Linked DNA regions of Homo sapiens. The protein of the gene in region 3 interacts with the protein of the main gene of each other region in a pairwise test. Each region holds a gene or a part of one and is shown on either strand. Other genes may lie near its edges.

Region 1 (3,654 bases), on a different chromosome or scaffold from region 3:
ACTCAGTGGACCAGACTTGGCAGAGGCACGAGGGCTCAGGTCTGCTGAGGAAATGTTCCCAAGCATGGGTGGCAGGAGACAGGGTCCTGAGACCACCAGACACCTCCCCAGCCCAATCAGAAGCCGACGTCTCTTGAAAACTGCCTCTTGAGTTTTCTGTAGAGATTTTTCATCGTAGACCTCAAAATCTCATTTCTTTCTGGAAGGATGCTCAGCCAGGCTGAGAACCTGGGCAAACTTTCTGGCACCTGGCTGGTTGCGGGTGTACACTCAAGCTGCAACCAGACTAGTTTGGTTCCAGAGTCCTCAGGGGACCATCACTTTTCTCAGATCATGTCAGCTTCCTTCATCTCTTGTGAAATTTAAACCCTCTGCTCCTTCCAAAAAATCATGTCTTCTTTCTAGTAAGAATTCTGACAGAATGGAGTCAGAAAGGACACAGGTTCCAGGGAGTGATGTTTCTTATCTGGAATTCTAATTCCAGTGATTCTGTGGTATCATGGCTGGTCTGTGGGACCCTTGCTTTGAGTTGAGGGCTCTTGCAGTGTTACTTTTAAACCCCTGGACATGGCTGGGCACCGTGGCTCACACCTGTAATCCCAGCACTTTGGGAGGCTGAGACGGGTGGATCACTTGAGGTCAGGAGTTCGAGACCAGCCTGACCAATATGGTGAAACCCTGTCTCTACTAAAAATATAAAAATTAGCCGGCCGTGGTGGTGCACACCTGTAGTCCCAGCTACTCAGGAAGCTGAGGCAGGAGAATCGCTTGAACCCAGAAGGCAGAGGTTGCAGTGAGTGGGGATAGCGCCACTGCACTCCAGCCTGGGTGACAGAGTGAGACTCTGTCTCAAAAGAAAAAAATAGGCCGGGCGCGGTGGCTCACGCCTGTACTCTCGACACTTTGGGAGGCCAAGGCATGCAGATCGCAAGGTCAGGAGATCGAGACTCTCCTGGCCAACATGGTGAAACCCTGTCTCTACTAAAAATACAAAAATTAGCTGGGCATGGTGGCGCATACATGTAATCCCAGCTACTTGTGAGGCTGAGGTAGGAGAATCCCTTGAACCAGGGAGGTGGAGGTTGCAGTGAGCTGAGATGTTGCCACTGCACTCCTGCCTAGCGACAGAGTGAGACTCCATCTCAAAAAAATAAAATAAATAAAATAAACCCCTGGACATTTATGTTAGATATTTTATTTTTATGACAGTTCAATATAAAAGAACAAACCGTTACGAGAGGAGCTAGAAGGCACCTTAAGAGGCAAGTGAACCCTTTGGACAGCATCACTTTGAAGTTACTCTACACAGAAACATCTGTCTTCCAGGAGCCTCCCAGCTGCTTCACTCCGTCCTGAAGTCAGAACCCCTACCTCCAGTCCTCTCTGAATTCAGGCGTGTTTGTGCATTTGCTTTTCTAACTGGGAACACGAAGACACCTGAGAGGGTTGGAGCTGGCGGGAGGAGGGCAGGGATAAACACCCCAGCGCCTTTTCCCCACTATTGTCTTGTTCTTTCTTCCACTTCACCTTTGCTTTCTTTTTTAACTTGTATATTAAGTTCAGGGGTACTTGTGTAGGTTTCTTATATGGTAAACTTGTGTCATGGGAGGGGGTTGTTGTACAGATTATTTTGTCACCCAGGAATTAAGCTTCTAAATAATTCAGGGGGCCCCAGCATTTGCAGAAGTTACCTACTGGCTTTAGAAGAATTTCTGAAAAGTTTGATGTCAGTCAAATCTTTTTTTTTTTTTTAACTTAATATGCTGGCTAAGATGCTGGCTATTTAAAGTTGGAATGAATGAATCCCTGGGCAAAAAGGAAGCTTTTAGGAGCACGCATAAGCACACACCATACTCTGGCTAAATTAGATTTTCTAAAATTGGGCTTTCCTAAAGAAAGTCATATGGTAGATGGCCATAGGCCCAGTGAACCGAATTCAGAAAGTGTTATTTCATGAGCAAGTTTCCCAGAAAGGTTCGAGATGTTTCTGATAGAGCAGGAATGTACTTCCTACTACACAGTACTCAGCCCTGGAGGCTCAGAGCAGGAAGACCTGACCTGCACAGGCCCCTTTTGTTGGCTGGGAAACTTCCACATCCCTGTGTCACCATGAAAAAGAGCTAACTTTGTCTTCAACGACGAGTTGGAAAATTATTTTAATCTCTGCATTAAACTAGATGCAAAATTGCCTCTCTACCTAGGAATCACGCTGCATAATCCCACATTATCTGCATTTTCAGTCATGCCTTGAATAATGATACTTGAGTTCTTGAGGAGGTCATTGTGGGGCTGGGAAGACCCCTAGACTTCCCCATGTAGATGTGGCCTGGAAGTAAGACTAACGTAGCAGCAAAGCCCTGGCGATCATGCACACTCCTGAGTAAGGCAGAGGTGTGAATCATTATATCACCATGGCTGGCTAGCTTCAGAGGAACCGAAAAAATGAAAACACTTGCGTTGCTCATTAGCAAAGGGAAATACACAAATGTTGAGGGACTCTTTGTGTCACAGCCACACTCTTCTGTTTCGATCTGGTAAGCAGAGCACTCTCCATACCTGCTTCAAGCTTCCAGCTGAGAGTTCTCTTTTAGCTGTTGTACCTATTGCTGAGGATCTTGATAGTGGGCTAGCAACAAGGGGCTTTAGAAAATAAGAGCATTTCAGCATCAACTGTTTTAACTGGAGTAAGATCCATTTTGTGATTTGATTTGATTTTTATTTTTTTAGAGACAGACTTTCACTCTGTCTTGCAGGCTGGAGTGCAGTGACGTGATAATAGCTCACTGCAACCTCAACCTCCTAGGCTCAATTGATCCTCCCACCTCAGCCTCCCAAGTTGCTGAGACCACAGGTGCATGCCACCACGCCCAGCTAGTTTTTGTATTTTTTGTAGAGACAGGGTCTTGCTTGTTGCCCAGGCTGGTCTCAAACTCCTGGCTTCAGGTGATCCACCCGCCTTGGCCTCCCAAAGTGCTGGGATTGCAGGCGTGAGCCTGGGATGCCAGGCATGCACCAGGCCCCATTTTGTGATTTAATTCTCATTGTAGACTGACATTTTCTATAGCAGAATTTTTCAACAGTAGTACTGTAGTTGAGGGGCCACATTTGGGGCTGGAGATGGGTAACTCTTTACTATGGGAGCTCTCCTATTTATTGCAGGGTGCTTAGCAGCACCCTGGGCCTCTACCCACTAAATGCCAGTAGCAACCCCCATCCCCGCAAATTGTGTAAACCAAAAATATATACACACATTGCCAAATGTCCCATAGGACACAAAATCATATACCCATACGCTAACACACCCATACACTAACACCACACGCATACACACACACACACACACACACACACACACACACACTTTAAGACTCGCTGCTCTGGCCAGGCGTGGTGGCTCACACCTGTAATCACAGCACTTTGGGGAGCTGGGGCAGGCAGATTACTTGAGTTCAGGAGTTTAAGACCAGTCTGGCCAACATGGTGGAACCCCCTCTCTACTAAAAATGCAAAAATTAGCTGGGCATGGTGGTGCATACCTGTAGTCCCAGCTACTCTGGAGGCTGAGGCAAGAGAATCGCTTGAATCTCGTAGGCAGAGTTGCAGTGAGCCAAGATCATGCTACTGCACTCCAGCCTGGGCAACAGAGTGAGACTC
Region 2 (3,654 bases), on a different chromosome or scaffold from region 3:
AGGTCCTAAGCATTAGTCTTATTCCTCTTATTCCTTGATTTTCTTATATAATCTTAAAGTCAGTCCTTTAACGTGCTTCTTCATAGAACAGCAAGCGGGCAGGGAAACCTACAGGTATCTGGGAAAGCGGAGAACCTTGTATCTTATTTGCTGCTTTTCAGGAATCCTAGGGTCACTTTATAGCACGTTTATCTGCAATTCCTATCTTCGTTAGCTAGTCCTTTCACCTACTAAATGATAGAATATCGGGATCTTTTCTTCTAAATATCTCTTTCTCCCTCTCAGAAATGTCCAGACACTTCTGAAGCTAGGAAGGCTCCTCTCAGGCTAAATCATTTTCTCAGTGGAGACATTATTGGCATTTGGGATGGGACATTGTTTGTTGTGTAGGTACTATCCTGATTTTAGCACTCCTGGACCCTTGGGTACTAAATGCAGATATCACCTAATAGTCACTGTGATGACCAAAAGATCACCAGACATTTCCAAATGTCTGTAGGAGGGCAATAATCTCCCCGCTCTGTGAAAGCCACTGGGTCACCTGGTCCTTCCGCTCACCTTCAGGCAGGACTTACGCAGTCTCTGAACACTTTGCCATTTTGCTCACGCAGAACCCGTTCCAGCTGGAGATGTGGAGAGAGGCTCCAGGAGCTCCTTGCGGGGTCGCTATGGGGAGGTCATGCCTGTGTACCGGCGGGACAGCCACCGAGACGTGCAGGCTGGCAGCCATGACTACCCTGGTGAGGGCATCTACCTGCTCAAGTTCGACAACTCCTACTCCCTGCTGCGCAACAAGACTCTCTACTTCCACATCTACTACACCAGCTGAAGGACTGCTGGGACAGGGGCAGGCTGTATTTGCTGGCTGAAGCAGGCTGCCAGCTGGTGCCTCTTGTTTGGGATAGGCAAGAGCCAAAGGTTCATGGGGGGCTGCTGAGCCTCACACCCTGTCTGGCATGCCTGACTGTTGGCCCACGTAGCTTTTTCCCCTTCTTGGCTTCTGCAGGTGGTGGTGTAGTGCCCCTGTTCTGTAGTCCCTGACTCATACCCTTCTTGCTTCAGACTCCAGCAAATTCCCTCTTGAAGGCACCTATGGGGCACAAGCCTAAAAGGAAGCAGGGCGATGTTTTTTAAAAATAGATTCATCTTGGCACAGGTTTATCATTCAGATTGCTGCCCTCTCCTCTCCCACAGCCCTTATTGCCAGTGCATTTAGTGGCACCCACTCTCTTCAGTTGTTGAGGTGCCAGAAGAGGGAAAAGCACATTGCCCATGAAGGAGCCCCATCTTTTGGTTGGAGAAAGCTCTATCCAGCCTGTCACCACTGCCATATTCCTGCCTGCTGGTTATTCTTGGTCTCTGCATAGCTGGGAGACCACACTGCCTTTGGAGGGCTATTACTATTCCTGATGGTAGACACCCCCTCCTTTCTCTTTCCTAAGTCTATGTTTTTGCCATTACAGCAAGAACATTCATGCAATCTCAAGTGATGATCAATGTAACCTAAGATCTTGTGGGAAGAAAAACTGCCCCCATTATTTCCTATTCCAAGAGCTGGTTTCCCTTACTATGGGCACTGGCAGTCAAAGTGGAGAGAGTGGAAATTAGGTACTGAATTGATGTCAGAACCCACATATTTGAAAGTCGTGTTACTTTTTTTTTTTTTTTTGGTATAATCAAAGAAGGAATGGTATCATCTGACAGAGAAGATGAAAAACAAAAAACACTCCAGAGTCCCCACCGCTTTTTTTTGTCTTTAGAGTAGGAGTGCTGTTTAGAAATGTTGCTTTGGAATCAAATGCAGTGAAACCCAATCAGGTTTCCAAAGTTTCTGCATTTAGCTTTCTTGCATTGAGGGCTTAAAGCTTTTGGTGTTCAAAGTCCCTTAGTTTAGGTGATAATGAAGCTTCACTATTGCTGCTGATTGTATTTGTTCTTTACCTGACCAAAGCTTGCATTTCCCTGGTGACAGCATTTCCTACTGTGTCACCCCTGAGGCTCAGGAGTGCCACAGAGTGCAGGTAGTGCTGCAGCCAGTGGTCACCAGAGCACCAGCTGCTGGGCCCCCAGGCGGAGGAGGAGACGGAGGTGAGATGGGACCTCAGCAGTCTCTGTGTTTGTACCTCCCTGTCTCTTACTCCTCGTGTTATGTCTGTTACTGCCTACGAATTCTGAAGAATAATTAGATTTATTTATTACTGTATTTATTTTTTTAGCACATTTCATTTTGCCTTTGAAACAGTTTCCATCTGTTTCTCAGAAGGCTTCCCATCTGTTCTGAGCCACTGAAGCCCCCTCTTTTATGGAGTTAAAGATGATATTTTTAGGAGAATTTGGGAAGCGATGATGTTTTATTTCTGTAGGTCAGTCCTGTGACGGCTTTGCGAGGAGTATGGCCCTTCAGAGATGGATGATGCCACCTTACTCCATGTTTGGGGTACAGTCCAGCACTCCCCATGAAAAATTCTAAGTTGTGAGGGAATCTGCCCATTTGCTGGAGATTGAGTGCAGAGGAATTCCCTAACCAATCAGAGATATCCCGTGATTCCAGGATTTCAGAGTCCTTTGTCTCCTCTGAGGTGTCACCTTCTTTGTGATGTTTCCTTTGACTCATTGTTAGATTCCTCACACCAAGGGTCTATCCCTACAGTAGCATAACTCAAGGAACGGGACTCTTCCCAGTGGGTCCCTAGTAGCATCTACATCACATCAAAGGGCAATATATCCTGCACCTGCTCTTCCCCTCGGAGCAAAGCCCCAAGTGGGATAGGATGTTGGGGACTGCCAGAGCATTCCCATTCTCTGAGCAGCATCATACCTCCATTATTTTATATTTGCAAATGTGTTTTGTAGAGGATTACACTGGCCAACATTTATATACCTTTAAAGAAATTATTTTAGTGACTGTCTGTTGAGGCAGTGAAGAGCTGATTTGCTGTGTGTCATCCCATTGGATAGCTGAGTGACCGCTCTTGCATCATTGAAGTTGAATCATGCCTTAGCTAACTGAATATAATCTTTGTAAAATAATTTTCTACTGAGCTGTTTTCTAGTCAGCTAAAGCCTTGCTTATTTTTCCTGTTTATTATTAACTTCTGCCTTTCTCTCAAATTGAAACAGTCAGGCCATACACAGCAAGCTCCCAAGGATAACACTTGTTATTATTTATTTTCACCATGAGATTCTCTGCTTATTTTCTTTGGAATCCTAGTTCTGTTGCATCAGGGAAGCCTAAGGGACTTGTTCCCCTCACCTCTGTGTGCCTCTTAGGGTCTGGTCACTTTTGAAGTCCTGGGCATGGTTACATTTCATTCATACTGGTTTTTCACCAACTGTCAGGGTTTCTGTGTTCCATTAGCACAAAATAGCTAAAAGAAGATATTTTCACTGTCTAATTCACTATTTTCATGTTACATTTCTGAAATAATTGAACTTTAGGGGCAAGATACTACTTACTGAAGCACAGGTAATTACTGAGAACCCACAGCCCAGCAAATTCTAAGAGACAGTCATTTCCTCAGCCCCTCCCAGTCCAAATTTATAGACCCAAACAATGAAATGAAAACCGTTTGCTTTGATCCTCACCCTGTTCTCTAGAGCACAAACAAATAGTAACAAACAATTGAAAGAAAGTGCTTCATAGTAGGAGAGAGA
Region 3 (3,754 bases):
GTATTAGCTTCTGTTATTATTTGCAATTTAGCCCAGGCTGTGGAGTTTTGTACAGAGTTTTATGTACCCATTTCCCAGATCACCCCTTCCTTTGAGAATGGTTTGCTATGGTCTATGTTTGTGTTCCCTGCAAATTCCTATGTTGAAATCTTAACTCCCAGGGTGATGGCATTAGGAGAGGGGAGCTTTCCGAGGTGATTAGGTCATGAGGGCAGCATCTCCATGAATGGGATTAGTGACCTTATAAAACAGGCCTCAGGGAGCTTGTTTGCCCCTTCTACCACATGAGGACTCAGCCAGAAGGCACTATTTATGAACCAGGAAACCGACCCACATTAAACACCAGGCACTCTGTCAGCATCTTGATGTTGGACTTCCAGCCTCCAGAACTGAGAAATAAATTTCTGTTGTTTCCAAGCTTCCCAGTTTACAGTATGTTGTTATAGCAGCCCCAACAGATGAAAAAAAAAAAAAAAAAAAAAAACATGGTTACAATGCAGAACTCCATGGCGGGCTCAGGTTTGCTCTCCTCCCATCTCCCAATCCTGATATTGGGAGTCTGTTGACTCTTAGGAGGTGGGTTTGTTTATGGTTTGTCCTCCTTGTCCAGCCTACAGTTCTTTCTGCTAGTACTTTTAAGCCCTGGTTAAGTCATTGAAAAGCACCAATTACAGACTTACATAACTGTGTCAGGAGCATTTCTCTGAGGGATTTGCTCACCCCTCGGAGTCAGTTGCCCAGGGAAACAAGCTGGCGATGTCACAAGGCATCCACTTCTAGTTCTTCCTCAGTTCCCTTCTGTGGAACCTGAGTCAGAGCCTAGTCCGGCATGCTGCCTAGCCCAGCCACGTCTCATCCTATTCATGGCAGAGCGGGGACTCTCACCCTCTCCCAGCAATGTCTAAAGTCAGGTATTTTGGGGTCATGGCCATAGTAAGGATGGTCTCCTGTGCTGCTTCTTCCCTCCCAGGGCACAGAAATGCCTATGCAAATGGAGTGTCTAGGACAGCCCTGGGTTACTCTTGGTTCTCTAGGGTATAGTTACAAAAGTGAAAAAAAAAAGAAAAGAAACCATTGGAGCTGCTCCCTGGAGGATCAAAGGTTGTTGCAGACTTTCTAGAATCTCAGAGACCTCAGGAGCAAAATTACAACACACTTTTCCTTTCTACTGTTCATGCCCTAAGCACACCCATGATCTGGTTTATCAACCTGCTCCTCCTTTTCTCAAGAGATAAGGTTGCAACTTCCTTGTTATATGCAAATGAAAAGAAAAGAGACTACAGCCATGGAAGTATTTCGCTAGATTTTCCTAGTATTTCATGCTTACTTCATTTAACCATGCCCCTGCCCCAGTGCCCTAGTGAAACAGTACAATGTACAGCTCTTGCATTGCTACCTGCCCTTCTCAAAGCCCACATGTTGTATTTTATGCAAATCTACAGATTATCTATCATTATCTAAATGCAGGCATCTGAAAACCAGCAGTAATCCTGCCTCTGAAGTTTATCAGGAAAGGAGCTTAAAAGAGAACCAAATTCAGCCTGTGTTGGAACTCTCAGTCCCAGAGGGGTGTGGTTTGTAGCTCTCCGGCCTGCTGTTGGACTTAGGCTGTGACCCACAGAAGGACGCCAGAAAGTACTCAAGACATTCACGGTGCCCCGGTCAGCACTCGCCATGACGAAGACTTCTACATGCATATACCACTTCCTTGTTCTGAGCTGGTATACTTTCCTCAATTATTACATCTCACAGGAAGGAAAAGACGAGGTGAAACCCAAAATCTTGGCAAATGGTGCAAGGTGGAAATATATGACGCTGCTTAATCTGGTAAGTCCATATGTCCGTACCAGGAACCGATCCATTTCTCTAGAATATCAGTGCTGCCACACATATCATCTTTGGATTTTATTAAATACACAATTTTGTTATTTGTCTTCCTTCTTCACCGTTTTGTGAGTTTTGGGTTTTTTGTTTACTTAACAATTTGCTCTGATAAACCCAATTTGGAAATTATCTATAGTTAACATTTCTATGCTGGCTCATTGTTAAATGCTCTCTTGAAAAAAAAAATCTCATCTTGGAGCTCTTTTCAGATGAGCTCAAAGAGGGGACCATGCTAATGGTTTCACCATGGGATTAACTACAAATGCAGGAGGCATTTTGAACTTTGCTTGGGGAAGTCTGTGAAGAGAAGGCAGAGTGGCGTATGGTGTGTAGGAAGTGTAATTTCCAATGAAGGAATAATGCCATTTTACAGCACACACAGACTAACAGATTTATCTAAGAAAAGCAAACACATTTTGCCATGTTCAGCTCCCACCTCAATTTTTTATAGGTTCAGGCTCCATCTTAAAGGACAAATCACCCAACCGAATGGCAAATACACATTTTCAACTATTTAAAAACCAATCTTATGACTTACTCCTTTCTTGTCTTCCTAACCTGGCTGACTGCATTCTGATGAAGTGTGAATGAATGGGAGAAAAGCAGATTATGAAAAATACTTTGAGGAATAGCTTAAAAAAATACTTTTAAAGTTAAAAGCTAATAATGGGGAATCATTTGGGGATGTGAATTAATATTTGAGGTTTTTGACTAAAATCTTGGGTGCCACATAAACATCTGTTTTCAGAATTGTAATCCTCATTTGACAAGCGGAGAATGTATGTGGTCAGAAACTGTGACACTCTGAAATGCTAAGGACGTGGAAATGGAGAGAGTTAAAATCAAAGAGGCCCAAAGTGGCTGCTTCCTCCTCACTGGTTGGTTAGTGGCCTCTTGATTTGGGCCTGAAAAATTGGAACCCTGAACACAGCTCTAGTGTCTTTGAAAACTTCAAGGTGACTACTTGTTTCAATCATGGAATTTTATGAGAAAAACAAACAGAAACAAAACAAAAAATGTTTTTTGTATAACTAGCAGTGCCACAGTAAACAACAACAACAAAAAACCACACACACACACGCGCATACACACACACCCCTAAGGTTTGTGTCTCTATTGGCTTTCTATGAAAAACAGTCCACTAAAAGGGAAGTGTGTCTGTAGTTAGGACTGACTTTCTAATAAAATCCAATTCCAGTATGAATGTCCTACCTCACACTATGTGTGGCTAAGAATAGATTTATCACCACACTCATTAACTAGCTCCCTTACCTCTTTGTATACACACACACACACACACACAACTGATCCTGACTTTTTAATTCTAGCTCACCTACATTTCCAAGAGCCCTTATTTTCCAAGAGTGAGAAAAGTCTCTTATCTTGTCAATGATACTATCATTTCCTAGTGTTAATCCCAATTTTGCTTCCCTGATTGATCAGCTACCAAATCCTATTAGTTTTTCCTTTTACTAAGTTCATCCTTTCTTCTTCAACCTTACTACTGTCTCTCTCATTCCAGGCTTATATTAAGCCTACCTGGATGACCATATCATCTCTTTACTGTCCATTCATGGTCCAATCCAGCCACTTAGATTCCAAATTAATCTTCTCAAAGCACTGGTTTTGGTTTGTTTTTTAATACCATGACCTGGATCTAAAAGTGTGGCCTGCCGCTCAGGAAACCACAGTGGCTCCCTCCTGCCTCATGGACCCAATGTCAAACTCCCGATTCAAGAGCTCACCTGCCCAACCAGCCTTTCGGGTTCCCTCTCCCTGGGAGGCTGGTCTCTTCTGCAGTAAGGACTGCGTCTCACTAGTATTGGTCCTTGGGCTTCCTGCTGTCACTTCTCTGCCCGGTGTTCTCTCT

What was found.
Region 1: the proteins of ADTRP (region 3) and CMTM7 interact in binary tests that used the Homo sapiens proteins (3 or more experiments, as listed by UniProt).
Region 2: the proteins of ADTRP (region 3) and TMED8 interact in binary tests that used the Homo sapiens proteins (3 or more experiments, as listed by UniProt).

Annotation. Positions count from the first base shown.
Region 1 is NC_000003.12:32,436,746-32,440,399, forward strand, and holds part of CMTM7 (CKLF-like MARVEL transmembrane domain-containing protein 7), read left to right. Parts: intron 1-3,654.
Region 2 is NC_000014.9:77,338,946-77,342,599, reverse strand, and holds part of TMED8 (protein TMED8), read left to right. Parts: intron 1-611; coding exon 612-829; 3' UTR 830-3,654.
Region 3 is NC_000006.12:11,776,680-11,780,433, reverse strand, and holds the start of ADTRP (androgen-dependent TFPI-regulating protein), read left to right. Parts: upstream 1-1,630; 5' UTR 1,631-1,674; coding exon 1,675-1,827; intron 1,828-2,692; exon of another isoform or gene 2,693-2,840; intron 2,841-3,754. UniProt on the Homo sapiens protein: Hydrolyzes bioactive fatty-acid esters of hydroxy-fatty acids (FAHFAs), but not other major classes of lipids. Show a preference for FAHFAs with branching distal from the carboxylate head group of the lipids.